Regions from separate parts of the Homo sapiens genome. Here regions 1, 3 and 4 are each linked to region 2. The links come from fine-mapping of genetic effects on gene expression. A gene starts in region 2. Each other region holds a variant in brackets. All regions are shown on one strand. Distances are between the middles of the regions.

Region 1 (8,178 bases), 69 kb before region 2:
GGGGGCCCCAGAGAGGTGCCTGTCTGGGTTATGTACAGAAAAACCGGTTTGCTAAAGAAGCTGGTGTTTTGAAATGTGACACTTAAGTTTTTAGAGGGAAAATGTAGTAATTGGGGAGCGACCGCACCTCCGGCTATCCCCACGCATGGCTATCCTTTCAGCCACACGTGTGGCACAGTGTGTGCGCCGTCTGCTGGAAGAGCAGGGTTTGGGGAAGAGGTTAACAGATAAGCAACATGAATGGCGCTGAGCCCGTTGGAGGGGCACGGGCAGTCCTGAGTGAATGTTACATAGGAGAGCCAGGGTTGATGTGGCTGCAGCCTCGTCTGCTCTCACACCAGCAGGTGAGTGTTAAAGGCAGGCCTCCTGCTGGTGGGCTTGTTTTCTCCTGGCATGTGTGCCTTGGGAACATGCTGCTTTCCTTTGTGCCTTTCTCTGATTCAAAGACTGGTTTCATCACCACTGAAGGGCATGTCACCTTTATGAGGTATTCCATTCTCTAAGTTTTGGTTACTGTATCTCCAAGACCTGCTGTTTCATGGCAAATCTCCATCCACTGGGTTTCTGATTATGTTTGAAGCTTATCATCATCATGCTGGCATCTTTGCCTTTTGGTGACCAACTGTTATCTTACCAGTGAGTGGTTTCATCTTTTTCAAGTGTGTCTGACAGTAACAGTGACCGCCCCCCACCCCGGTACTATAAGGCTGTCAGTTCGGGTGGATACTTAAATATTTATGTATTTTTTGAGACAGGGTCTCACACTGTTGCCCAGTCAGGAGTACAGTGGCACAAACACAGCTCACTGCAGCCTCCACCTCTGCCTGCTGAGTAACTGGGACTACACGTGTGCCACCATGCCTGGCTTTTTTCCTTTTTCTTTTTTTTTTTTTTTTTTTTTTTGTAGCGACGAGGTCTTGCTATATTGCCTAGGCTGGTCTTGAACTCCTGGGCTCGCTCAAGCAATCTCTGGCCTCGACCTCCCCAAGTGCTGGGATTACAGGTGTGAGGGACTGCACCTGGCCGCCATTTAAGTATTTAGAAATTAATGTCCCAGCATGGTTTTTCAGAGTTGCAAAGATATTTTCACTTACTTACTGATAAAGGGGTAGAGTTTTAGCTTTTGATAAAGGGGTAGAGTTTTAGCTTTCATAAGAAGTGAGGCTATTGATCCCTTTGACGTTACTTCTGTTTAGAGTTTTAGGAAAATATTTTTAAAAATTTAGATAATTTATTTTCAAGAAAGCTGAACAAATCTGGATGGTGTGGGGGTGATGGGAAATACCATTTGAGTTTTGAGAAGTGATTTTTTTTTTTATTCTTTGGAAACTAGTGTTTACAGAAATCTCTTCTCCCTAGAGACTTTAAAACGTGCTATTAAGACAGAAGGATATGGTAAGAATTTTTATTCTGTAAGAATCTTCAAAGCTCAGCATGAAGATACACATCTTTCCCATGGGAATCCAGGCTAGAGAAATGCAAGAAGGCGGTTCCCTCTAGAGTCTCCTTTCCTGGGAGATGCAGCTCCAGATGGGTGGGTTTCTGGGCAGGAGGGGAGAGGAGGGTGGTGTTTATTCAACTGTTTATTTGGGATCATGTTATGCGTCTTCAAAAAGCGATATAAGAGAAAATATTGGAAAGATATTTCAAAATAAGAATTACCTTGAAGTAATTCCCATAATTAATGGGTAACATTTTTGTGTATGTATTTTGGCTTTTTATTGTAAAAATAATGTATTTTCATTGTAGAAAGTTTTTTTTAAAAAGTAACGAGTACAAAAAAGTAGTGTTATATAACTTTTAATGGAAAATGTCAAATAGATACAAAAGTATAAATCAGGTTGGCAAGTGAAATACAGGCCAAAATTGGGCCCACCAGCTGTTTTTGCACAGCCCAAATGTTAAGAATGATTTTTACATTTTTAAATAGTGAAAAGATGTAAAAGGGTAATATCTAATGACATAAGAAAAGTATGTGAAATTCAGATTTTATTGTCCAAAAAGTTTGGAACACAGCCACATGCACTGGTGCGTGGCCCCCTGGTGGCGGCTTCATGCCACTACTGCCAAGTGGCAAGAGAGCCCCATGGCTGGAAAAGCCAACAATCTTTACCATCTGCTCCAAGCCCTGCTTCACTCCCCTGTGTGTACCTATCCTTGCAGCCTCAAATTCCCGGCCAATCTTGTTTCATTTATAGTTACTCCCAGCCCCACGGATTCAAAGGAAATCCCAGACATCCTATAATTTCATCTTCATGTTGAAATTTAAAAAGTTTGAAAATTCACCAAGATGTAATATATATGCACCAAACATCAGAGCCCAAAATATATGAAACAAACATTGACAGAATCAAAGGAAGAAATGGATAGTTCTACAGTAAGAGTAGGAGACTGCAGTAGCCCACTTTCAGTAACGGATAGGACAACCAGACAGAAGATCAGTCGCAAGACAGAACTTGAACAGCATCATACCAGCTGGACCTAACAGACACAACAGCAGTACACACGTTTTTCTCAAGTGCAAATGGACCTTTCTCTAGGATAGACAGTATGTTAGATGACTAAACAAGTCAACAAATTTCAAAAGACTGAGGAAATAAAATATCTTTTCTGGCCACAGTGGGATGAAACTAGAAATCAGTAACAGACAAAAAACTGAAAAGTACACAATTATGTGAAAATTAAACAACGCTCTCAACCAGCAGATTAATGGGGAACTCACAAGGGAAATTAGAAAATATCTTGTGGTAAATGAAAAATGTAATATACAAAAAAACAGGTACAGTCAAAGCAGTGGTAGGAGGGAAATTTGTAACTGTAAATACACCTATTAAACAAATTAAGATCTCAAGTCAACCCTAAATTTACATCTGAAAGAACTAGAAAAAGAAGAGCAATCAACCCAAAGCCAGCAGAATGGAGATGATTATAATAATAATAAAGATTAGAGCAGAGACAAAATAGAGAACAGAAAAGCAATAGAGAAAAATAAATGAAACCAAGAGTTTGTTGATAGCTAAGAGTGACTAAGAAAAACAACTAAAAACCAGGAGGAGACATTACAACTGATTTTACAGAAATAAAAAGGATTAAGAGTACTATGAGCAATTACATATCAAAGAATTGGATAACCTAGATGAACTGGACAAATTCTTAGAAACACACAGCCTATCAAGATTGAATCATGAAGAAATGGAAAATCTGAACAGACCTATGCTAGTCAAGAGCATGAAGTAGTAAAGAAAAGCCTCCCAAGAAAGAAAAGCCCAGGGTCATATGGGAATTCTGGCAAACATCTGAAGAATTAAATCAATTCTCCTCAAACTCTTCCAAAAAACTGAAGAGGAAAGGACACTTCCAAATGCATTCTATGAGGCCATCATTATTCTGATACCAAAACCAGACAAAGACACTATAAGAAAAAAACACCACACATCAGTATTCCTGATCAAGATTTTTTTAAATCAATATTCAACAAAATACTGGCCAACAGGATTCAGTGGGACATTGAAAGGATTACACATCATGGCCAAGTAAGATTTACAGCTGGTATGCAAAGATGTTTCAACATGCTCAAGTCAATAAATGTAATGTCTATTACATTAATAGAATGAAGGAAAAAAATGTGATCTCCATTGATGGAGAAAAAGCATTTGAGACAATGTCATGCCCTTTCATGATAAAAACTCAACAATTGGGAATAGAAGGAAACAACCTAAAATAGAGGCCATATGAACATCCCACTGTAAACATCATATTCAATAAGACTGAAAGGACTTTAAGATCAAGAACAACACAGAAATACCCTGTCTCACCACTTCTGTTTAACACAGTACTGGAGTCTTAGAGCAGTTAGGCAAGAAAAAGAAATAAAAGGCATCCAGACTGGAAAGGAAGAAGCAAAATTATCTGTTTGCAGATGACATGATCTTATATGTAGAAAATCCTAGTGTCCATACATATACAAAAAAAAATTTCAGTAACACTGCAGTTTACAAAATCAACACAACAAATCCATGATATTTCTATACAATAACAAGCAATCTCAAAAGGAAATTTAAGAAAATTCCATTATAATAGTAACAAAAAAACTGAAATATTTAGGAATAAACTTAAGGAAGCAAAAGACTTGTACTTGAAAACCATAAAACACTGCTTAAAGAAAGTAAGGTCAACACAAATAAATAGAAAGCAATCCCGTGTTTATGGATTGGATACCTTAAGATGTCCATAGTCCAAAGCAATCTATAGATTTCATGCAATCTCTATCAGAATATCCCAGTGGCTTTTTTTTTTCCATCCTGAAACTCATATGGAATCTCAAGAGACCTCACACAGCCAAAATCATCTTGAAAGGGAACCAAGTAGGAGGTCTCTCACTTCCTTATTTCATAACTTACGACAAAGCTACAATAATCAAAATGGTGTTGTATTGAAACAAAGACAGTCATGTAGACCAATGGAACAGAATAGCAAATCCCCAAATAAACCCTTGCACATATGGGTCAAATGATTTTTGATGGTGCCAAGACCATTCAAGGGAGAAAGGACAGTCTTTTCAACAAATGGTGCTAGACAAGTGGACATCCACATGAAGCTAGATCTACCTCACACCATATATAAAAATTAAAATAGATCAAAGGCCTAAACTAAGAGCTAAAACTAAAACATTTAGGAGAAACATAAGGGAAACTTTTAACAACATTGGATTTGGCAGTGATTTCTTAGATATGACACCAGAGGCACACACAGGTAACTAAAAGAAAGAAACAACTTCTGTACATCAAAGAACAAAACAGAGTGAAAGGCAATCCACGGAATGGGACAAAGTATTTTAAAATGATATATCTGAAAAGGGTGAGGCAGTGATTTCTTAGATATGACACCAGAGGCACACACAGGTAACTAAAAGAAAGAAACAACTTCTGTACATCAAAGAACAAAACAGAGTGAAAGGCAATCCACGGAATGGGACAAAGTATTTTAAAATGATATATCTGAAAAGGGTGAATACCCAGAACATATAAAAACACACACCTGATTGAAAAATGGACAAAGAGCCCAAATAGACATTTCTCCAAAGACGACATATAAACGGCCAACAAACAGATACTCAGCATCACCAGTCATTACGGAAATGCAAATCAAAATCTCAGCAGGATACCACTTCACACTCATTAGGATGGCAATTATTAAAAACAGGTGTTGGCAAGGATGTGGCAAAACTGGAACCTTCAGTGGGAATGTAAAATGGTGCAGCCACCGTGTAAAACACTTATGGCAGT[G/T]CCCTAAGAAATTAAACATAGGATTGCCATATGATTGAAAGCAGAGACTCAGATATTTGCACACCCATGTTTACGGCAGCAATATTCACAATAGCTAAAAGGTGGAAGCAACTCAAGTGTCCTCAACAGATGAGTACACAAACAAAATGTGGTCCATCCATAGAATCAGCCTTAAAAAGAAATCTTGACATATCCTACAACTTGAATAAACCTTGAGGACATTACGCTAAGTGAAATAAGCCAGTCACAAAAGGACAAATCCCTTCTGGTTCCACTCATACGAGGTCCCTACAGAAGTCAAATTAAAAGAGACAAAGGAGAACAGAGGCTGCCAGGGGCTGGTGGATGGGGAATAGGGAGTTGGTGCTTAATGGGTACAGAGCTTCAGTTTTACAAGATGACAAAAGTTCATCTTGTAAAGTTGAACTTGTGGATACGTGGTAGAGAAGGTTGCACAGTATGAATGTATTTAATGCCACTAAATTGCACACTTAAAATAGGTAAGATGGTAAATTTCACGTGTATTTTAACATGTCAAATTCTTTTAAATGACATTAGAATTGACTACATAGGTTAGATAATAAAAACCAACTTGCCTTCATCTGTGCAAGTTTCTCAAATGATTATCAAATAAAAATGAAATTTCCATGCAAAAACGAGACAGTTGAGGTGTCTCTTCTATTTGACACAGATGTCCTCATTTTTTTTGCTCTCCCTTACTTAGGAAGAACAAGAGCATTTCAAAGAAACCGCATCCTCAGTGAACGCTGGTTATGGTCCAAGAGCCAGCCCAGGACCCCTGTGGCACCAGCAGTGCCTTCTCCTGCTTGCCCCTCCAGCTGGTGCTCTGGGCATCTCTGTTCTTTGTCACTCTGTGGATTTGAGCCAGTGAGGATTGGAAGGAAGAGGACCAAGTACAAAAAGGACAACTAGGAGGGTTAACAGCCTCTCCTAGGCATTCACGTGAAAAGCAATGGCAGATCCACGTGGCCTGTATTGGGGCAGGTGCCCTGGGGAGCAACTCCTTCATCTCACAGATGCTGAGGGCGAGAATGGCAGCAGCCATACACTGCCTGAGTTTAGAGAGGACTGCTGGGGGTGCATGTGCAGGTGCCACGTTACCACCTAGAACACACTGTCTCATGCTGTGAGCCAGGGCTTTTTAGGCACACAATGATGCAGTTCCTGCTGAAATTCTGAAGGCAGAGGCTACACCTGAGCAGCTCCTACCGGCTCAGTGGCATTTAGCCCATGGGACGCGGGGGGACACTGCTTTCCAAAGTTGAGGGTCTGCCTCCTCTATGCAGAAACAACAGGAAGGGATAAGGAGTGGGGCTTGAGTGAAGACAGAAGCAGCAATTCTGTTGAGATACATATGAGTGCAGGGTGGATGCTGGTGTCAGCCATAGAGGGCCCCAATGGCTGGTGCTGGTTAGTCATGTATGCAGGTCCTTCTTTTTCCTCCTACCTGTTGCTAATCCCTTGGCTTTGCCATTGGGTAGCATTTGATAGGGACTAAAGGGAGGTGAGTGGTGTCCATCACGTGCACACATCATAATGAAGAGAGGGAGATTAAAAAGTCGAGTTTCATAAGGCAGGCTTGCTTCTGACTTTTCTCAGAGGGCAGCACCCCTTCCTTTTGATAATTCTGAAGATAAGCAGAACAGACTAGGTTTCACAGTCCACTTATCTACTAAGTTAGGCCTTCGCAATGAAAAGAAAAACCATTAAAAGGCATCTCTGGAGAAAATGGTCTTATCCTCTTAAAGGATAATTGAAGCTTCTCAGTGACTTCAAATCTTATATGGAGTTCTCTCAAACATTTAAAGAAGAATTAACAAGAAACCACCACAAACACTTCCAAAACACAGAAGAGGGAACACTTTCTAAGCTTATCCTATGAGATGGACACCAAAACCCAAGAGATCACAAGGTGGTGGGTGGCAGGTGGGGTGGGGGTGGGGGTCTTGGAACCAATCCCCCGTGGATACAGAGGGCTGGCTGTTCCAGCACACCAAATCTAACAGCTATGTATAAAAGGTATCATAAACCATGACTTAGTGGGCTTTGACCCAAGAATGCAAGGTTGGTTCAAGATATAGAAATCAGTCAATGTAATAACAGCACATGATCTTATGAAGGCCAAAAACTACATTATCTTAAGAGATGCAGAAAAAGCATTTGACAAAATCCACACCCTTTCACGATAAAAACAAACTAGGAATAGAAGGGAACCTCCCCAACCTAATAGAGGGTATGTATGGAAAACCCAGGGTTAACATCATAGTTAATGGTGAGACTGAAAGCTTTCCCCTAAGATGAGGAACAAGACAAGGATGTTCACTCTCGCACTGCTATTCAACATTGTACTAGAGATTCTAGCCAGCGAAACGGGGTAAGAAAGAATAAAGGACATCTAGACTGAGAGGAAGAAGTGAAACTGTCTATTCATAGATGACATGATTTTGTACACAGCATCAGGAATCTACAAAGGTGTTAAAAGAGCTGATAAATCTTATATGACAGTTTGGTTCTAAAAGCAGCACTTAAGGCAAAAAACTGTTCACAGATGGTTAAATTTTTTCCATAAAGTAGACACAGTTTGCTGTGTACAGCCCTGTACAGTACGCACACACAGTGCATACAGAGAGCCTGTACGTCATGCAGTAAACCACGACAGCTACAAATCGGTCTGCTCCTGAGAGGCTACTGCATGGCTTTCCAATTTGTGTGTATTCATAAATTAGGTGAGGAATGTGACTTTTTGACTCAAAATAGGCAAAAGGAAGTTGTAACTGGGTGTCAAGAGACACCAGCCCTGAGTGAGCAGCGCAGACTGAGAACAGGTCCGAGAATGACTGGAGATTCTATCTTGAGAGTGTCTGGCATTGCC
Region 2 (8,178 bases):
CTGAACATCCTAAAATGCAAAACTCAATGCCCATGTTCAGTCGACCTAAAGTTATCTAAAACTGTCTCTAATAGCATACAGCTGATTTTATGATTTTCAAGAACATTCCCACCAAAGGCAGCAAAGACCATGAAGTAGCAGATGACTGAAGTGGCACCTTGAGTCTCATAAAACACATTCAACAGAAAATGGCTGCTAGGAACATCTCTGATAATTATCAAATTATCTCTCAATATCAACTTGAAACTGTGGATTCAGAAATCTATATTAAAAAAAAAAATCAAGTGGATAATCCTGAAAAATATTGCTAACAGACCAAATACAGGATTACTTCAACGACAAACATTTGAGCACCAACTACATGTTATTATGCTAGATGTTCCTGCCCTCAAAAGTGTGCAATTTAGCTAAGGAACTAAAAAAGAACAATAGCAAAACACACACAAATTCCATACAAGTGTAATATAATAAAGTGTGTTTACATGTAGATATGTGAGTGTGCATGTATACATACATACAGATATGTCCACAATCTTGTAACTTGTGGTAAAGAGAGAATAAAGTTAATTTGAGCAGAAAGCAAATCAGCTGGGAAAGCTCTGACTAGAAACTAGGACTCGATCTTCGCCCTGAAGCATGGTTAGATCTTAAATGAATGGAGAGGCAAGGCAAAAAATATCAATCATGGGAATGGTGGGTGAATAAGTATAAAGGGCAAAATGTGTGCCACAGTTTGAGAAAAATAAGCAGAAAAGATGGGATAAAATGGAGAAAGTTTATCAGAGGACTGGTACATAAGCGACTAGAAGCCAGGTCATAGAAGAATATCAAAGGTGTTTAGACTTTATTCTGTCAGTAATTAAACGTTTTTCAGCAACAGATCAGCGTGAGCAGTGTTGTTTTGAGAATAATAATTTTCTAGGGCTTGTAGGATAGATCAAATGAAAAACATGGAGACAGAAAAAAACAACTAGGCAACAAATATCTTGCCAACAGAACCTTATCTGGATGACTGTCCTATGTACATCCCGGTATCCTCAGCTGAAAAAATATTTTAAAACTTGATGACACACAAATATTGTACTTACCTATTTAGACACTATGCCCACTCATCATTTAATACACTTATCTTCTAGTTTCACAATCTTTATAACATTTACATAAAGAGCCTGCCTACTGTTTCCATTAATATAACCAATTCTTTTACAACTACCTAAACTCTACAGATAATTCATTTTGGCAACTCAGTGAAAAATGAATAGTTTGGTCTGAATTTCTCAGCTGATAAGTTTGATTTTTTAAGGGTTGAAAGGAGTGAAATGCAGCCATGGAAATAAAAAAATAGTCCATGCCCAAAGGCTTATTTTCAACACAGAGGAAAAGATTTGTTTCTCTGAAGATGTGTGTGCTTCACAGATTTGTTATGGTATGCTCTATGGATCACAATGAAGTTTTTCTTAAAGCATAATCTATACAGCTCATGAACTAAAGCACAAACTCTGGATGCAGATTAAAAACAACACCACCAACAAAAAAAGACAAGTTGCAATTTAAAACGTCTGGGGTCTGGATCTCAAGTTTTCAAAAATACTCCCAAACTGAGGCTTCTGAGTTTGCAAATCAGAAAACAATGCTACTAAAGTTTTATAGAATGATGATGACCCACGGCTTTCAATGGGAATGTATTTGTTCAGCTAAAAAATGTGAATTGCTAGAGCTTTATACGCTTATTTTAATTAAAATTACCTTTATTTTGGGAATTTACAAACACAAAAAAACTAGAAATTACTCCTGAAAATTATTAAACTTTTAAGAGCAAGCACTCAAAGGGTGTAGCTTGTATAATTTGCAAATTTTAAGCACATTTTATGCCAACTTATTTCAGACAGCCTACAATGATTAACTATTTAAAATCTTCCCTTAATTTCTATTTCATGTGGTAGGACACGTGGGTGGGATACTTCAGTAGAAAAGGACTTCATGAAGTTCATTTGCTGGTGGAAACTCTTGGCATGAGAGACTCAGAACAAAAAAAAATGTCTTTCCTTCAACAAGCATATTTTTTCTTAACAATAATAATGGCAAACATTTATTAGAGCTTACCATAGGCTACGCATTACTCTAAACAATCTACATATGTTGTCTCATTTAATCCTCACACTGTCCTCCAAGGTAGAAAACATTATTCTTGTTTTACAAGTTTCATTATGTATTTTAAAGATGAAGACACTGAGGCAAAGAGTTCAGTGGAGCTGGGATTCAAAATGATGGAGTCTCACTCCAGGATCCATGCTCCTAACCACTATGTTTATAATAGCAGTTCCTGAAAACCCTATTAAAACAGATGCCATTAAATTATAAGCTTTTTAACTTTTTTTTTTTTTACCGTCTATTACAGATCACTAATATGATTTCAAGTAATGATGAACCTAAATACAAAGGCACTAAAACAAGGAATACAACACAGGAAAGAAAACTCCAATCCATCTTAAAAGACCACATGTGTTTCCCTATTTGTTTTGCTTATAAGTGTGGACAAATTTGATCCAGAAAGGACATTTTAAAAAATGGCAAACTGAGGGCTGAGAGTCAGAAATAAGTTGTACTCTAAGGACTTACAGATAATCACAGATTCCTCATGGGAAAGGTAAACACGTAAAGACGAGGAGAAAACAGAATATGAAAGAGTAAACGTCTTTTCTGATTAGGGCCGGATGGTAAGGATTTGGAGGCAGCAAGAGACAGCTTCATAAGGGAAGAAATGGTTCTCTAGATTCTTTAGTCTTCAAAATGAGTTTGAATAGGCCCAAGGACAGAGGTGGAATCTAATTGAGAAAAAGGTCAAATTGAGCTTACTGTGAGGGGAAGGATGCAAAATTAGTGTCTGCTGCAAGAAAAATAAGCATGGAAAGAAATTAAGGGAGGAGACAGAGACAGAGCCAGAGCCACAGACCAGGAGTAGGGAAAAAAAGGTAAGCAGCAGACGGGGCAGAGTGGCCTGGAGGAATGAGGGGTCACACCTAGCAGGTGCCCACCGGCGAAGAGGCAAGGACCGAGCCCGGAGGGCAAACGCCGGCAGGAGTCGTCCCCGAAACACCTTGCCCAGCGAGGCGGACACAAGCTCGGGCCTGCAAGACGGCCCAGGAGGGTGGGGGCGGGAAGGGGTCGCAGAAGGTGGGCAGGGGAAGCGGCTGAGGACGCGCGGTGCACCTGTGGGCGGCCCCCGTGCCCACCCGACTCGCCCGCAGCTCCCTGAATGAACCCTCCACACCCGCCGGCCGCCCCCAGACCCCACCTGACGCGCCCGCGGCCCATCGTCCCTACCTGACGCGCCCGCGGACCCAGACTTCAGCAGACGCGCACGCGGCAATCCCGTCCCCACCTGACGCGCCCGCGACAACCCCGTCCCCACCTGACGCGCCCGAGGCCCCCGGTCCCCACCTGACCCTCCCACAGGCCCCGTCCCCACCTGACGCGCTCGCGACCCCATGTCTTCCCCTGACGCGCCCGCCGCCCCCGGTCTTCACCTGACTCGCCCGTGGCCCGTCGTCCCCACCTGACGCGCCCGCGAGCCCCAATCTTCACCTAACGCGCCTGCGGCGCCAAGTCTTCACCTGACGCGCCCGCTGCACCCCGCACCTACCTAGCGCGCCTGCGGCCCCCAGTCTTCACCTGACGCGCCCGCGTCCCCCAGTGCCCAACGGGCGCGCCGGCCACCTGGGCCCGCACCTGACGGCGACCAGGCGGTTATTGCCGGAAGTGGGCCGCCGCCTCCCGGCGCGCCTCAGGGAAGCCCCGCCCCTGGCCATGCTGATTGGCCGGCGCGGATCCGCGTGGCAATGTTGCTGCCTGGTCCTGTCGCCCGCAGCGTGCGCCTGCGTAGTAGGCACTGCCCCTCCGTCCGCGCGCGTCCAGAGTGCCGGGCGTGGAGGCGTGGGGGCGTGGGGGCGTGGGGTGGGGCTCGGGTGCGCAGGGACGGGCGCGGTCAGTGCCTGAGATCCCTGCGATCGCTGGGAGATGACGGTGAAGACCTGAGATTTAGGCCTGCGCGGCGGGTGACGACGCCGGTCCGGGTCTTCACGGGAGGACGCTGGCCGGGGCCTTCAGGTGTTCTCGTGGCCTGAGGACGCGCGTCCCTGAGAATGTGCGTGCCCGCGCCGCGCGGGTCCCACAGGAGCCTGGGCAGCCCCGCCGCCGCATTTCCACCCTGCGGCCGTATTTCCACCCGCTGGGCGCCAAGCCCGGGATGACTGCACTCTAGGGCATCACTGCGCGCTCACACTCAGCATTCGGGCACAAGCACGTTCTCTTTATAAACAGTTTCGAATCTTGTCGAATCTTTCTAGAAGGTTGAAATGCCCTGGAGGAGCAGCGTGAATAGTTTTTTCCAATTAGGAAAAAAGAATGTGGGGCGGCTGGAGGGAGAGAGGCAGGCCGAGAAGGCCAGGTGGGTCCAGGAGCCGCAGCCCCCGTGCCTCAGTTTCCGCCTAGAAACATGGAGGTGGCGGTGCACGCTACAGGATTTCCATAAGAACAAATGAGTTAGCGTGTGCAAAACATTTAAAACAGTGTCTGGTGTGTAGCAAGCAAATATGAGTATTAGTCTTTTCCTTGTTAAAATGTGTGCATCTACATGTGGTGCACATTACAGGAAGTGTATAGTATGGATTCATATTTTGGAAAAGTAATTTTAGAAGTTATTTCTGAAGTGCTTATTATAATAGTGTTTCTTGACCACATGCTTTTAAATAATGTGAAGGCAATGAAGTAGGCAATATTGCTTGCACATCCCCAATTTAAACACCTGTCTGTCCCTCCTTCCCTCTCTCCGTTCTTTTCTTCCTTTCCCTCTCTCTTTATTCCTTCCTTCATTCCCTTCAAGGTTGCGGATTATTCTATTATATAAATGTATCAATTTATTAGAATAGTTTCTATGATGTCTATGATAGGTTTTAAATTGTTTGCAATAGTTTGCCATTATAAATAATGCCCAGTAGCGCTGTGGTCTGATTTAACTTGTGAAGGTATATTTCCAAATAAATCGCTATGATTGGATTGTTGTGTAAAGCAAAAAGTGTCTGAGGCAGATCACAACTGATTTAGAGGTTTATTCTGCCAAAATCGTGGACGTGTCTGGGGAAAAAGAAACACAGGTTACAGTAGGATTTTTGGCCTGTACTTTTTTCCAAATATTTAAGGGAAAAGCGCCGGTAGGAGGGGAAAGAGGGGAGAGTAGGCTATGAGGCAAGTGGTCACATTTTTGTGAGGCTCTGATTAGAGTACAGCAAATCTACATTTCACATGTGAAAAGAAAGGTATGGGGGAGGGTTATGCATCTGTCTCATACTCAGTAGATCTACATTTCACATAAGATAAAGTAAGCTTTTGGGAACAAAAAGAAGACTGCGTGTGTGTGTGTGTGTGTGTGTGTGTGTGTGTGTGTGTGTTTTGCCAATATTAACTTTTCCCTTTGGCATAGTAAGTTTGGAGGCCTGAAATTTTATTTTTCTTTCACTGATGTGTCAAGGTTAACTGCATATGGAATACTAGTAGAAATTGCCAAGCCAAGACCCCACCACCACAATGGGGGACATAGTAATATTAAATTTAGCCCAATTGGCTAGCATCCTCACAATTCCTAGTGAAAGAATTCCTGGATGGATGGTAAAGAGGTAAACAAACTGCAGAAACTCACAAAGCAACAAAAGAAGTCCACAGAGTAAGAGCAGGAATTCAGAGAGTAACCACAGAGAGATCCACAGAGTAACAGCAGAACCCACAGTGTAACATCAGAGCCCACAGAGTAACAGCAGGACCCACAGAATAATAGCAGGCACCCACAGAGTAACATCAGAACCCATAGTGTGATAGCAGAGCCCAAAGAGTAACAGCAGAGCCCACAAAGTAACGTCAGAACCCACAGAGTAACAGCAGAGCCCACAGAGTAACGTCAGAACCCACAGAGTAACAGCAGAGCCCACAGAGTAATGTCAAGAGCATATTCATGGTCTTGGGTCTTCTTTGTGTGTCCTTTCTACCAGGACTGGGCTTAGCTCTGTGCTTGTGAAGAGTAACCCACTCAGTGCCCTCGGGAATTTCACCACTGGAGGAGGAGAAAAACCCCAGAGGGGCGGGGAGAAATGCTTTTCAAAACACATGGTGCAGCTGGAGATTGTGGAGCAGTTGCCCGGGCAGAAGGCTCGGCAGGGGGAATTAGTGACCAGTAGGGAGGTGCCTCCCTAACCACAGAGATTTTTTGGCAATCAACTTGTTGAAAAATCATGTTTTAAAATTTTCTTTAAGTCAAACCCTACAGAACCTAAGGAGCTGGCTCCTCCTGGCAGGAAGCTGGGAGAGTGCTGGTCACAGTGCACCAGGTGCCCCCTGCCTCACAGGGGCTTAGGGTGGTGGTGAGCACAGGGGTCCCACGCTTCTCCAATGCACACCACACAGTCGTCTCCTCTGACCTTCCCAAATGCTGCACGGACAAGTGTATGTAGTCCCTAACTCTCAGGACAATGTAGACTTGGTATACCTTCGGGCACGGGGAATCCCATCCTTCTTCCTGTTCCTGCCGCTCTGAAGCATGTGGTGTATGTTTAATGGGGATTTTACACAATATGGGAAGACCACTTCTGCTTTCTATGCAGTGATAATACTGCAATAAGAAAAAATGAACCAAGCCACCAAAACAAAACAGTACCACCTGATGCAGAACTAGGAGGGAAACACAGCAGTGTCTCAGAGCTAATGCAGCAGCCAGGCACCACGACAGTGTCATGGGTACAAGGAGGAGGTGTCTCAGAGCTAATGCTCTGTGCTGACAGCAGCCAGGCACCACGACGGTGCCATGGGTACAAGGAGGAGGTGCCTGGTTTTCAGGAGCTTGCCATCTGAACAGACCCAAGGTGGCAAACACACAGTGAGAAAATGGGGCCATGAGTGCTGTAATTACCTACAGAATGTTTAGGGGGACTGGGAGCAAAAACAATCCCCTCTTTCAGAAACCAATCCTGGAAGGTGCTGGAAGGTTGTACTAGCTGTGAAAATCAGACGCCAGCAGGCAGCTATCGTGAGACCAAACGCAGTACTCAGCTCAGGCAAGCCGGTTTGCTTATTTATGTCAAATTTCTCAGTCTTGGGTCTCCTTATCTTTTAAATAAGGAGTTAGAATAGAATTTGAGGGCTGTTCACTCAGGCATCCATGGTGGCTGCAGCATAAGGAGTGTGTGGTGTCAGGATGGGAAGGGCAACATGGAGACTGCATGGCCATTGACGTCTGAAAGTCTCTGGTTGCCAAAAAGAATCTATGTACAACAGCATTCATCCTGACAGCAGCCAACAGGCAGCCTAGACCTGGCATGCCACAGCTCCTCTAGGCTCTGAACCCCTCTCAGCTGAGCCTGGTAGATGCCAGCTGACCGGCTGCAGCCCCTGAGTAGAGGTTGGCTGTCCTAGCAATAGCGTAGGGCGGGGGCACAGCAGACATGGGACCATCATCTAGATTCCTAGACGTGCAACTTCAAGTGAGTACATAACCTCCTGAGCCCCAGCTCTCACCTGAAAGCTGAGTTAGGCGCACACACAGGAAGGCAGAGATGGGTCCAGGGCTGGGCTTCTGGTTCCTCTACTCAAACTCTGCTGCTCCCTGCCCCTCTGCCATCCCTGCAAGCTCCTCACTGACCATGCTTGTCTCAAGCGTTCTCTCTTCCTCCTGACCTCCTGGGGACTTCATAAACCCAGTATCTTTTTAAAATAATCTATTATTTTAGGCTCAGGGGTACATGTACAGGTTTGCTATACAGGTAAACTCATGTCTGGGGGTTTGTTGTACAGATTATTTCATCACCCTACATGTACAGGTTTGCTATACAGGTAAACTCATGTCTGGGGGTTTGTTGTACAGATTATTTCATCACCCTACATGTACAGGTTTGCTATACAGGTAAACTCATGTCTGGGGGTTTGTTGTACAGATTATTTCATCACCCTACATGTACAGGTTTGCTATACAGGTAAACTCATGTCTGGGGGTTTGTTGTACAGATTATTTCATCACCCTACATGTACAGGTTTGCTATACAGGTAAACTCATGTCTGGGGGGTTTGTTGTACAGATTATTTCATCACCCTACATGTACAGGTTTGCTATACAGGTAAACTCATGTCTGGGGGGTT
Region 3 (8,178 bases), 64 kb after region 2:
AACAACTCCACGTCTTCCGTCTTCCGGGAGAGAGTGTGTTATCGTGCCCCTGGAATCCACGCACAGCTCATTTATCAGCTACTGCTGAAACCCTGTCCTGTGAGGCTCAAACCCAAGCTGCAGATGACCTGGTGGAATGTGAGCCTCGGCTGTGGGGTGATTTCACTTAATTTCTCCTTAAATTGAAAGATTTCACTATCACCCACCAGCAACGGGCAGCACCTAAAGTAGGTCATCCATGCGGAGGACACTGGTGATCAAGACAAACTTGATCTGGGATGTAAGATAAAGCTCCTTGCCGCTACCACTTTCTGTCTGGCACACTGAAGGAGGATAATTAGATTTGCAGAGATTTGACGACTTGATAGAAAATACCAGCCCCTGGTAGCTGACACAGGGAGAGGAGCAGTAGAATGTACGCGGGTCTTAGAGGGTCACTGACGTGCATGCAGCACGCTTGACAGGCAGCCGGGACACACAGACCTGCTCTGCGGCTGCCCTGGAATGACCCACGCTGGCCAGGAAGGCCACAGCTGTTCCTTCACACGTCAGCCCCACCTTGTACCCCTCAGCCCTTGGTCTCCCCTAGCTGTCCCAATTTGTAGGCAAAACCACATTTTTGGACTGACCTGTGGCCACTGAGATGATCGGAATTGTCATGAATGCCCCGTAGTGGGAGCAATGGCCTTCAGAGCAGGGAACTTTCTTGTATTGATTGTTGATGATCCCCCATAGTAGCCAGGGCTCTCAGAGAAGCAGAGCCAATGGGATGTGGAGGGATAAAGGGATGTATTGCAAGGGACTGGCTCACCTGACCATGGAGGGTGGGAGACCCCTTGATCTGGTGTCTGCAGCTGGAGCCCCTGGAGAGCCGGTGGGGTTGGCCCAGGGCCTGAGAACCAGAGAGCTGAGGATGGGAGAAGATGGGGGGTGGGGGAGGCCAGCTCAGCAGTCTGGCGGTCACCCAGCCCTCCTCCACCTCTGTGTTCTATTCAGGCCCTCAGCGGCTTGGATGGTGCCATCTGCACGGGGGAGGGTGGGTCTGCTCTCCTCCGTCCACAGGTTCCAGCGCTGAGCTATTCTGGAAACTCGGAGCCCCACCAAGTTGACTTGTAAAATTTACATCACCGCAAGCTTCACATAGACATATTTTTATTATCCTCTCTCTCTTGTTAGCCACCCCTGTTGAACTGTCCAGGAGATTTCCTCAACTGTATCCTCTAACCACTCCACTCTATTTTCGGCTGCTGTGGGTTTAATTTTTGTGGGTTTCTCCTACCATCTGACAAGCTACTGAGCATGACCCGCTGATCCCTCCCTCGGCAGCACTCACCCTTGTCCCTGGCTCCCCTTTCCGGGGCCCCACACCTCAGCATTGCTGGCGGATCACTGGGCCCCTTTCCCACTGTTGAGCAATGCTGAAGCGTCTTCCCCATTTCCATCACAGCCTCCAGACCCCATAAACCTGTGGGAGCAGCATGGGCTTGGGGTCAGGGTGCAGAGCCCCACATCTGGCCCTCGTTCCTGCATCTGAGGGATGCTGGGGCCCCCGGCTCTCCGCAGTGTGGTCTTGGAATTCCGAGCACATGGAAGTGTCTGGTTGGCAGAAAAGTGAGTCACTGACACCTGTAACGTCCACCTGGGTGAGGCAGGAAGGCTGAGCAGTCGGAACGGAATCAGAACCCTCAGCAGCAGCAACAGGGGCTGGGAAACACTGGGAAAAAGATCTCGCGAGGGAAAAGGATTTACACAATGATCCCCCAAATGGAAACGTCACACACAAATCAGTATTTTGTATATAGTTTATATTCGTTTCACTTAACAGACAATCATATAGCACTGACTCTGGACCAGGCAGAGTTCTAGCGTCTTCACAAATACTGAGTCATGTCATCATCATTTTACGAATAAGGAAACTGAGTCAGAGAGCAAGTCACTTGCCCTATCTCAGACGACCATGAGTGGCTGAGCTGGGGGAAGGCCAGTGGGTCTCAGACCCCTTTGCCCACATCAGACTAAGGGTCTGGACCTGCCAGGCAGGATGAGGATGCGGGGAGGAAGTGAATTCCCAGGAACCAGGGATAACAGAGCAGCCAGAGGCTGGGCAGAGAACGAGCAGGAGCTCTGGGGTCCTGTAGAATAGCTGGGTTTGAGTCTCAGCCCTGCCATTAAATTAGCTCTGTGACTTCAGGCCAGTTGCCTAACTTCTCTGGGCCTCACTTCTCTGCTGTGTGAAATGCCTGGGTATGCAAAATGGTCATTAGGAGATCCTGTCTATAATACTCCATTTTTTAAAAAAGAACATTTTGGCCTGTTTCACATGCTGCTGGGTTACTGTCCTTGGTGAGGCATTTCATGGAAGCTTCCCTAACCAGCACCTGCCAGGAGCTCCTAACCTTCCATTTCTGGATGCAGCTGGGCTACGAAAATCTTCTCATTAGTCTTTTTCCCAATTGTTTCAGCAAGAAAGTAAGGAAACTCTAGTCAGTGCCTGGGCATCATCTCTTACACCCAGCAATGTCCGTTTCCGTAGAAAGAACCGGCCGCCAAAATCCCGTGAGCCTCCCACCCCTTCTGGGCCTAGTGCTCCCACGTGCATTTCCCCGAGGAAATAATTGTCTGGCACTGGGCAGGCCCTACAGGGGACATGCTGCCATTTTCCGTACCTCATAGTCTGTGGCAGCTTCCACCTAAAAGACCCACGTTTTAATGTTTAATGAAAATTTCAAATATTAAAAAAGTTTTTTTCTGATTATAAAAGTATAATATGATCATTGTAGAAAGTTTGAAACACACAGCAAAGCAGTTTTAAAAAGTAAAACTTACCCATCTCTAGCAAACCCAGATATGACTGTAAATGTTTCTGTGACTCTTGGATAACTGCCTGACAGCGCTCGGGAAATTTCGGATCAACTTTTTCCTCCTCAGAATGTACAGTGGATGAAATGTTTGAATGTGGCTATTTTTCGGGGTGTCATAATAATTTTTTTAAACGTCACACTGGAAACAATGACGTTTGTTTTTCTTTTATTTCTTTTCTCATGACTAATGATCTTAAATATTATTCTACGCATTTATTGAAAATTTATATTTTTTTCTTTGTGAAATGCCAGTTTATGTCCTTGCTCATATTTTTTTTTATTTGGTCCTGAGATTATTCTTGGGAACAGCATGCCAAGGCCCGACATAAAGTTTCTCTCATCCTAACCAACATACAAACTCTTCCCAAGCAACAGTCTACACAGAGACCCGTTCTTCTCACATCCTGGCTCTCTCTCTCTCCCTCTGCGAGTCCTCCTCTTCTTTTGACACCACTCACATAAGCAGTTCACACTTGTGCCTGCTTCTCCATGAGGATTTCCACTCTCTAAGGAGGTAGAGGAGTGCAGAGATTTATTTGCTGGGGTCACATGCAGAGGGCGTCGGAGAAGGCAGCCAGGACAACGGCCAATGTCATTGTTCAGCCGTCATTGGGACTGACATTGGAGACAGCGTCTTGGGCTCTGGAAGGAAGGGAGCGTTGACAACTGTCATTATTTCTAGTCTCCCCAGGGCATGCAGAACATTACATGCACCTTGCTAATGGCCTGCAATGATAAGATATGTATCAGTGTGAATAATCTTGCTTAGTGAGAGTAATGGGCTGGGTGACGGGGTCTGTCTGTCTCATTTCTATTGGCATAAATAGATCTGGGCACTATGACTTCCACAGAGGAGTGGAATTACAGAGTCACTGAGGGCCTAACTTTAGTTTTGGAAAGAGCAGAACTCTGGAGACAAGGCTGAGCTCAGGAGTGTTGTGTATGTTTGTGTTTCTAGCTGTCATAGTCTGAATGCTGGGTCCCCCAAGTTTATCTGTTGAAATCCAAATCCCCGAGGTGCTGATACTAGGACCAGGGGCTTTGGGAGGTGATTACGCCCTGAGAATGGAGCCCCGATGAGTGGGATTGGAGGCCAAGGGAGCTTTTTGGCCTGTCCCCCTTAAGAAGTAAGAAGGTGTCTTCCGTGAACCAGGAAGCAATCCCCGCCCCCGCCCCCACCCACCCCTCACCAGACACCGAATCCCTCAGGGCTTTGATCTTGCACTTCCAGCCTCCAGAACTGTGAGAAATCAATGCATGCACAAGTCACCCAGGTTATGGCTGAATGTTACAGCAATGAATGGACTAAGACAGTGCCCATGTGATGCCTGACTTTACTGCAGACACCTGTACTCTCTCCTGCAGCGTCCTCACTGGCACCATCCCCCCAAGGTGGAGTGGAGGAA[C/A]GTTGTCACCATCTGGCACAGACATTGTCACTGTCATGGATGGGCAGTCGGCCACCAAAGTGTCTGGTGCCAGCAGTTGCACCCCTAAACTCCCCTGATGATGGGGCCGAGGGATGCATCGGGGGCAGTTCTACGGTTAACTAGGCTGGCAGTCTCGGCCCCTCGGCATCTTGGTGCCCATCTCCGTATGTGCTTTTATTTCTATGAGATAAATTATCAGGGGTCAGGTCACGGGTATGAAGGGTATGTCATTTATAATTTTAATATATCTTGCCACACTCTTTTCAAAAGATTGCAAAAATTTGTTTTTTCACAAGGAATGTTTGAGAACTTCCTTTTTCTTTCACGTCTTGCAGCTATATAGGTTACGACACTTCTTAATATTTCTCAACCTGATAGATAATATTTTAATTTGAGTTTTCCCTAAATTCCAGGTAGGATGAACATTTGTTCATATGTTTTATAGGATTATTAGTTGTGTGTTCCTTTCTTTAAATAACCTATGCTTATGCTTTACACATTTTTCTCTTGTTTCTTGACAATTTTGATTTTTGGTCATTTTAAGATATCTTTATATATGGCAGATATTAACCCATGGTGGTCATCAGAATTGCACATTTTCTTCCAAAACGCCAGTCCGTCAGTTGACTCCATTTGACGTGAGGCTTGCACTCTTTAAAAGTTTCACTGCTTTTACTGGAATCACAGTTTAGGATGACAGGGGCCCTTTGCGGATGTCTTGGATCCACCTCTGTCTTCATTGCAGCCGCGTGGCTGCTTCTCCCTGGATTCTTCTCCTTGGTCTGCAACTCGTGTGGCTCCACCCCAGCCTCCTCTCCACTTTCCAGACAGGTCTGAATCATGGGGAACATATTAAGCAATGTTCATTCTCCAATTAATATTAAGTGTCCACAGCTGTGGCCAGGTTCTGTGCAGTGTTGTGAGACCATGACGGAGACGGCCTCTGAGTCTGATGTGCAGTGTTGTGGGACCATGATGGAGGGGGCCTCTGAATGATGGAGATGGCCTCTGAGTCTGATGTGCAATATAGTGTTGTGAGACCATGGTGGAGATGGCCTCTGAGTCTGATGTGCAGTGTTGGGAGACCATGATAGAGACGGCCTCTGAATGACGGAGACGGCCTCTGAATGACGGAGACGGCCTCTGAGTCTGATGTGCAGTGTTGGGAGACCATGATAGAGACGGCCTCTGAGTCTGATGTGCAGTGTTGGGAGACCATGATAGAGACGGCCTCTGAGTCTGATGTGCAGTGTTGGGAGACCATGATAGAGATGGCCTCTGAGTCTGACGTGCAATATAGTGTTGTGAGACCATGGTGGAGATGGCCTCTGAGTCTGATGTGCAGTGTTGGGAGACCATGATAGAGACGGCCTCTGAGTCTGATGTGCAGTGTTGGGAGACCATGATAGAGATGGCCTCTGAGTCTGATGTGCAATATAGTGTTGTGAGACCATGGTGGAGATGGCCTCTGAGTCTGATGTGCAGTGTTGGGAGACCATGATAGAGACGGCCTCTGAGTCTGATGTGCAGTGTTGGGAGACCATGATAGAGACGGCCTCTGAGTCTGATGTGCAGTGTTGGGAGACCATGATAGAGATGGCCTCTGAGTCTGATGTGCAATATAGTGTTGTGAGACCATGGTGGAGACAGCCTCTGAGTCTGATGTGCAGTGTCGTGAGACCATGACGGAGACGGCCTCTGAGTCTGAGTCTCCGGGGGTAGAGAGGACTCATCGTGGTGCACACATGGTGAGGGGCGGAAACCCTCACAGAACACAGCCCAGGGGAAGAGCTGCACAGTTTTCCAGTAAATGTCTGATGAGCATTTTGCCCATTGATCTGTCAATGGACACTTAGATTGTGTCCGTATCCTGGCCACTGTGATGAGTGCTGCAGTCAACACCGGGCTGTGGACATCTCTTCTGAGGACAGATTTCCTTCCTTCTGGTCCACACACAACGGAGCACTCTTCCGCCTTAGAATAAGGAAGTCCTGCCATTTGCACAAACATAGATGAGCCTGGAGGACATGATGCTGAGTGGAATAAGCCAGACACAGAGAGACAAACTCCGCCTGATCTCACGCAGATGGACGCCCCAAGTCTACAAAAGCTCAGTTATAAGATAAATAAATCCTGGAGACCTGATGTGTGTAGCGTGGTGTTGATAGCTAATAACACTGTATTATATACTTGAAATTTGCTGAGAGAGATCTTAAATGTCCTCACTTTCTCCCATCCGCAGCACACACACAGGTAACTACATGGGAAGATGGGTGTTAATTTGCTTGACTGTGGCAAACGGTTCACTACATGTATGTAAATCAAAACATCACCTTGTACACCTTAAATCTATACAATGCTTATTAAGGAATAAAAAATTTAATTAAAAAATTAAAAATAAATAAATGTTTAATGAACTAATATCAAATCTACATCCTTTAGGGGGAAATTGGAGTGCAGCACAGACCATGTGCGTGGAGCAGTTGCACAGACGCCTTCAGAGCCCAGCCTGAGTCCTGTTGGCTCCATGAGGCCAGGAGCCTGAAGCCACAAACAGCATTTGCTGCACAACTGTTAACTTTATATCCACATGAGAGTCATCTGGACAACCACAGATAAAAGTGTTAGGCTGGGCATGGCAGCTCACATCTGTAATCCCAGCACTTTGAGAGGCTGAGGTGAGCAGACTGATTGAGCCCAGGAGTTCAAGCCCAGCCTCGACAACATAACGAGACCCTGTCTCTATAAAAAATACAAAAATTAGCTGAGTGTGGTGGTGTACATCTGTGGTCTCAGCTACTTGGAAGGCTGAGGTAGGAGTTTCACCTGAGCCCAGGAGGCCGAGGCTGCAGTGAGCCAAGATCGTGCCACTGCATTCCAGCCTGGGTGACAGAGCAAGACCCTGTCCAAAAAAAAAAAAAAAAAAATGAGAGAACTGCCCTGTCCAAAGCATGTGATCAGCACTGTTATTGTTTGAGATAATTTAGAAATGTGACACATTTAATGGAGGTGAATATCAGTGTGAAAAATGAGACAAAGAAGAGAGGGGCCTGGACTTGCAGGGCTGGAGAATGTTGCAGATCCAATCATGAAGCTGGCAGGAGAGTCGGGCGAAGAGTGGTTTAATTAAATCACTGTCTCTCCGTTTAAGAACCTGCATGGAGCCAGGCCACTGTCAGCACTGAACCCTCAGGAGCGAGGTTCGCCGGGAAGGCCACTCTCACTCAGCTTCCTTCCTGTGCCCAGATTCCCTCGAGCTGTGTGTCGGGAACGTCAGTAATGCGTGACATCAAGGTGGGGAGTTTGGCCCAGGGACCCCTGACCGCTGTGCTGACTCTCCATCTCTCTGTCTGAAACAAGGCCTGGAATGGGCTGGGCTTTGAACCAAAGTGTTTTTTAAAAAAGACCTTGAAGACCCCAAATTGTGGAGTCATAAGGAGTGAACGTCCTTTTTGAAGAATACTTGGTCCCACTCTCTGAAAACCCATTAAAACCCAAGGTCATACCAAGGAAGGTGGCAATAGGGAAAGCAAACCCTCTTATTTTGGTTGTCATGGTTTATATGATTACATCTAGTCAAAAAGCACAAAGACAACTCCACAGGAAAACATTCTGTAGATTTCAGAAAAGGATGACCTGCAGGCCCTCGGGAGGGCCCTCTCAGCAGCTCTGCAGCCTCCCCTACTCCCTTCCATCGCTGGGCAGCCCAGCCCCTTCCCAGGTCTCTCCCAAAGCCTCTGCTTCCCTTCCAGGGGAGGGGCCCGCTCAGGACCTGACCTTCCCATGGCGAGAACTCCTCCGACTGCCATCGCTGATGGACGCTAACCCACAGAAGCTGTCTGCGGTCACTCAGGGTCTAGCAGATTCATGAGAGTTTTAGAAAAATGTCA
Region 4 (5,318 bases), 62 kb before region 2:
AATGTAAGCCATCCCTGCTTACCTGCCCAGCTCCCACAGCTTGTCCCTCGAACGCACCTGCAGGAGGCTGTGACCCATGCAGTGGCAATGCGGCTAGCTGTGTCCATGGCCTGTGGAAATATGCCAGCCCAGCAGAACAGCTGGAATCCTACACTATTAATATGGTTATGTTTTCCAAGCAAGTACTGCTCAATTTATACAAGTTAAATGCACATCTGTGATTTGATAGCACAGCTGAGAACTGTTATAACATCTAACAATTAAATGACAGTAACAGTATATGACAAATTAGGGGAAAGAACCACAACTTCAAAAGGATAGTTTCCTTTTAAGAAGAAACTAACATGAAAAAAGACTGACATCCACCCCAAAAAACAGGCAAATACCACATTAAGTAATTTACCAAAAACAAGAAAAGCAAATGGATAATAAATATATGGAAATATTCAAGCTCACAATTTATCATACATCAAATTCTTCACTTATTAAAACAGCACCAACAGAAAAAGAAATACCTGTGCTTCAGGGATAATGGAAACTCAATGTACTTACTCCCTTTCCTAGATTAGAACAATTTCTTTTCTCAGCTGGACGTGGTGGCTCATGCCTGTAATCCCAGCACTTTGGGAAGCTGAGGCAGGTGGATTGCTTGAGCTCAAACTCCTGAGACCAGCCTGGGCAACATGGTGAAACCCCATCTCTACTAAAAATACAAAAAAACAGCTGAGCATGGTGGTATATGCCTGTGGTCCTGACTGCTTGGGAGGCTGAGGTGGGAGGATCACTGGAGGGTGAGGTGGGAGGATCACTTGAGCCTGGGGGACAGAGGTTGCAGTAAGCCGACATCATACCCCTGCACTCCAGCCTGGGTGACAGAGCAAGACCCTGTCTCAAAAACAAACTCCAAAAAAATTTTTTTTCATGAACAATCTAGAAATATATTTAAAAGCCTTAAAATATGTTTGACTCATGATGTTGGCTGTACTACCAGTGGTTGTAAGGAGACGGCCACATTGTTGTGTGACGATGCTTATCATAGTTATTGATGCTAACGGCGAGACACTCAGGAACCCCAATATGTTGTGATGAAAAAGCCTGTTCCATCTGGGTGATTCTGTGGAGCTAATAAAAGCCAAGTTTCCAAATAACATTTAGGATATGGTTCTACGTTTCTAAAAAAAGGCAGGGTCGGGACGGGGGGCGTTGTGAAGTAACAGTGGTATACGGGACATTTATGGTCTTATGAAAAACTAACATATATTCGCAGAGGCCCCAGGTATTTGCATCGCCTCAGGAGAAACTATAATTTGACAAATAAATGCATTCTTGGCCATTTGTGTCAGTTCACAGAAGTGGGGCTGAAAAATCCAGAATCTTTTTTTAGTCCTATTTATAACGCCATAAAAGTATACTTTTATTATTATGCTTAAAGGAAAAAGTAGAAATGATTTGCTTGGGCTCCTTGACCCTATTCAAAAATGGAAATATACAACAATACGTTTCTATCCTATGCCTGCTGAGGGGATTTTTCATACTCTTTTCAGCATGCACAATAATCTTTGGGTGGTGGGACTGATTTTCTAATTTTCTAAAATGGACATGCGTTATTTTAAAAACGAAGCAATCTTTTAAGGATTTAAGTATCAAAATCACTAACATTTCTCAGTAGGATGCAAAACTGATGAAGTTTAAATCAATAGATAAACATGATTTATTACTTTGTCTATTAAAGTAGTTTCAACACAATTGAAGTTTAGACTGCACTGGGCTGTTCCCATCACAGTCCAGGATTATGCACAGACCAGCCCCCAACCCCAGCAGGGGTGCCCTGCCAGAACCTGTGCTGGATGCCTAGGAGCACAGAGACCACTGCCCGTTGTTGGGCTGCGTGTGCACACTTCATACCCCGATCCATAATCCCTAAGACAAGAATGGCTGTCATTGCCCTGGGTTCACTTTCTATTCAAAGAGGACTCATTTGGGCACAGCCAATGTAGTAGTTAAAATGCATTTTGAGAAAAAATAAATATTCTGTACAATGTATTTACAAGGATCAAATGTTTTGTAACCCACCCCCAATTAGTTTCCCAATTGGGAAACTATAATTTGATAATTAAGAAGCATATTATTGGCCGTTAGTGTCACGTCAACAAAGAATGTGGAGCTGACCACCTAAAGTATTTTTGAACTATATATATAGAGAGAGAGAG[T/AGT]ACGCAAAATTTCACATTTTAATATGCTTAGAAGGAGTTTTTAAAGAAGTAGAAATGATTTCCTTGGCCTCTGACTTTCAGTGATGAAAATGCAACCATGCAGTCCCCCCTTTGCAGAAGGGCAGTTCTTCCCAGGCTTTCTGGAAGCAGGGGCTTCCGAGGAGTCTCCACCCACCTCACAGAACACTCACTATGAGCCCTGCACAGACAGCAGGATTCACAATCTCCAATAGGGATGGCAGGGGCAGCCCTTAAAACTTGAAGAGGTCGATGAAGTGCTGCGGAGACACAGGCGTGAAGCAGCTGTCAGGGTCGGCCGCCGTGCAGGGGTGTCCTGAGTCCTGTGGGGAGGTGGGAGATGGTTAGGAGGGGGCCCCACCACCAGCCACACTCTAGTGATGGTGCTTGAGGGGTCGTCAGCTGCTTGTTGATGTGGACCCTGGGCCCCACCTCAGAGGTACATGGGAGATAACTTGGATGAGAATGACCAACACAAGGGCAGCCGCAGCCGATTCTACATAGAGGTTTCCCATGGAACTCCTGCTCAGGTAGGGCAGGAGACGGTGGCCCCAGGTCTGCCCTCCAGTGCCGAATCTGGTACTGAGTCAGAGGAGCCAGCTGCTGACACCACCCTGCACTGCCCCGGAATCTACAAGGCCACAGAAGAAACCACTGGGGACTTTCTGTCCTCTGGTCCCAGCCATTCCTTTGTCCTGTCCTCCTGTTCCTGGCTCACTTTGTTACACAGGGTTCCCTCCACCCGCCATTCATCCCTGAATCAGCTTGGGCTCCCTGCATAGGACAGGAGAGGGGGACACACGGCCTCAGCCCCCAAGGCTCCTGCTTGCTCCAAGGGAGCTGGCCATGCTCACATACCTAAGGATCCAGAATTATATTTAATATGAGAAGTGACGACAGAAAAATTAATTTTGTGGATGAAGACTGGCAGACTCTTAGGAGGAACGCAGGTAAACGGGACCAGAGGCTCTGGGGTCAGTGCTGGATCTCTCCATGGCATGCCCTGGCAGTGCTGCCAAACCAGGTGCTGTGTGGTGAAGTGTTTATGCGCACATCTAGCAGCCTCCCTCAGCACTCAGGTGTTGTTCTGCAAAATATTTCATCAACACTCTCGTCCTTGCTGAGGTGTTTGATCAAAGTGGCCACTCAGCCCTGCTCAGGGTCCTGAGAAAGCTCAAGTCAGCGAGAGCTGGAATCGAGCCGGGCAGTGGCCAAGATGACGTGCATGAGATGCAGCACGATGCAACGTTTTCATCCCGAACACAGGATGTGTGGCAAGACAGGGAAGTACCTTGAATAGTAAAGCAAGATGGTAGTCCTTCGAGATCATGAAGAAAGAATCAGGAAGGAATGCAGTGAAGGGAGGGAAAAAAAGGAAAAGTTAAGATTAGAAAGAGCCAGAGTGTATCTAAGCATTCAGGTTTGATTCATATTATTTACGAAAATAACTAAAAACATCAGGTAACTAAATTTGGACAGTACAAGGTTATTAAAAGCAAACAAGTTCTCATCAGATAACCCAAAAATTCCCAAACTACTTGAAGACAGTCTTAAGACAACATATCTCTACCTTTAAGTCTTTCAAATTTGGCAACTAATGAGGCTGCAGTGCTAAATAACCTTTAAAATTATTCACTGAAGAAGAGATGCTATTTCCATGTGCAGTTTATATTAAAACTTTATAACAGATTTTTTTGGGGAAAGTTCTTTGTTCTTCATTTAACATCCGAAGGCTCTGCTCTGTGCTCAGTAATGCACATTAAGTCAATTCCACACATGCCCTTAAGCCAGCCTCCACCTCTGACACTTGTTCCTCCAGGCCAGTGAATGCCACTTTCCAACACAGACCCAAGCCTCAGCAGCTGCCCTCCTGTGCTGTTCTCCCCCGCTGGTTCAGGATGCTACTAGCAAAGCGGTTCCCCTGCAAGACCAGGACCACCAGACCATGGACACCTCATCTTGGATTCTGGCTCCAACTTTGCTCCTGATGTCCACACAGGCCTGTGGGGTGAACGTCAGATGGCCAGCCCTCTATTCTGGCAACTGATACACCAAGAAAAAACAGGACATAAAAAGGCCAAATGCTCATCATGGCTTCCCTGACCCAGCCAACAAGTCTACAGTTTTTAACTGAGGTTTTGTACAGCCGGGAGGTAACGCCACCCCTCTCAGTGGACCCTCGCAGGGCCATCGAAGTCAGTCTTTGGCTCCAGAGCTTAACTCAGCCCAGTTACTTACAGACTGTGTGGAAGGCTGACTAAGGCAGGTAGAAAAGTTAAAAAAGAACTCCAATATAGTAGAGCCACAACAGATGGGAAACCAGCTTGGGAGCAGATGAAGTGGCTCCACAGCACTGCTGACTGGAGAGCTCCAAGCTTATGTACTGTGGGAAGTGATAAATACCAGATGCAGACCTGAGACAGATGCACCATGGTGTCGGCTCATGACCAAGTCCCAGGGCCAGAATTTAGAGTCAACAACACCCAGTCTCATTTTCTTAACAGCTTTGATATTACTTTAGTTTCTCAGTCAACACAAACTACTGGGATGCTAAACAAACAAAGAACAAGCAGTGACCCTAACCCTAAGTGCCATTTTCTGAGCACCAGCTATGTGCCAGTTTCCAGGTGCAGGACTGCTGAACATCCACAGCTCCTCTGTGTGGTGGGTCATGGCGTCAAACCAAGACCCTAGGAGGGGCAGCAAGCTCAGGAGACCCCGGAGGCAGGTCCAGGTCTGCCTGACTCCAATCTGGGTTTGGCCCACCAGGCCACTCGCCTCTGGTTAGCCACACTGGGCAAACCCACGGCGGAGGAGATGGAAGACAGGGCAAGAAGTACCTGACATCTTGAGGGGTTAAATTAGGAGAGATGGCTCTTTTTGAATACTTCCAATGCATGGATTCAGAACTAAAAACGTGGACTGCCTTCTAGAATGATATTCAGTGGGAGAAGCTGTGATGGGACCACTCACTGTAGCTACAGTGAAGTGGACATCACAGCCTCCAAGGGCAAGACATGAACCTCCCAGAACTAAGAGATGGGCAGCTGTCCTTCCTAGGAGAGACTTGTTCTCAATTTCCATGATATG

Which allele goes with the higher level. Alleles are on the strand shown, and positions count from the first base shown. SD is a standard deviation of normalised expression in the study named. Not every link is listed here.
As copies of T replace G in region 1, the expression in cerebellar hemisphere of the gene that starts at base 3,752 in region 2 goes down (moderate effect, 0.43 SD a copy in GTEx).
With allele T in place of AGT in region 4, the expression in skeletal muscle of the gene that starts at base 3,752 in region 2 is lower (small effect, 0.20 SD a copy in GTEx).

What was found. PIP is the estimated chance that this variant, and not a neighbour inherited with it, causes the effect.
Region 1: its variant is fine-mapped to the expression of FBXO25 in cerebellar hemisphere (GTEx, PIP above 0.99).
Region 3: its variant is fine-mapped to the expression of FBXO25 in monocytes (TOPMed, PIP 0.91).
Region 4: its variant is fine-mapped to the expression of FBXO25 in skeletal muscle (GTEx, PIP 0.98).

What each region holds. Positions count from the first base shown.
Region 1 is chr8:471,574-479,751 of GRCh38, reverse strand. It overlaps FBXO25 (F-box protein 25), which reads right to left. Exons shown (of 10, transcript NM_183420.2): 10 at 1,785-8,178. Among named protein-coding and RNA genes, the nearest start is that of FBXO25, 69 kb to the right of the region's middle. RefSeq lists enhancers at 1-203, 204-705. The variant G/T (reference allele first, on the strand shown) is at 5,286.
Region 2 is chr8:402,532-410,709 of GRCh38, reverse strand. It overlaps FBXO25 (F-box protein 25), which reads right to left and starts at 3,752. Exons shown (of 10, transcript NM_183420.2): 1 at 3,644-3,752. RefSeq lists a silencer at 3,620-4,029 and an enhancer at 6,131-6,190.
Region 3 is chr8:338,642-346,819 of GRCh38, reverse strand. No RefSeq gene overlaps it. Among named protein-coding and RNA genes, the nearest start is that of FAM87A, 40 kb to the left of the region's middle. The variant C/A (reference allele first, on the strand shown) is at 4,268.
Region 4 is chr8:465,948-471,265 of GRCh38, reverse strand. FBXO25 (F-box protein 25) reads right to left here. Exons shown (of 10, transcript NM_183420.2): 10 at 1-2,551. The coding sequence ends at 2,462. Among named protein-coding and RNA genes, the nearest start is that of FBXO25, 62 kb to the right of the region's middle. The variant T/AGT (reference allele first, on the strand shown) is at 2,211.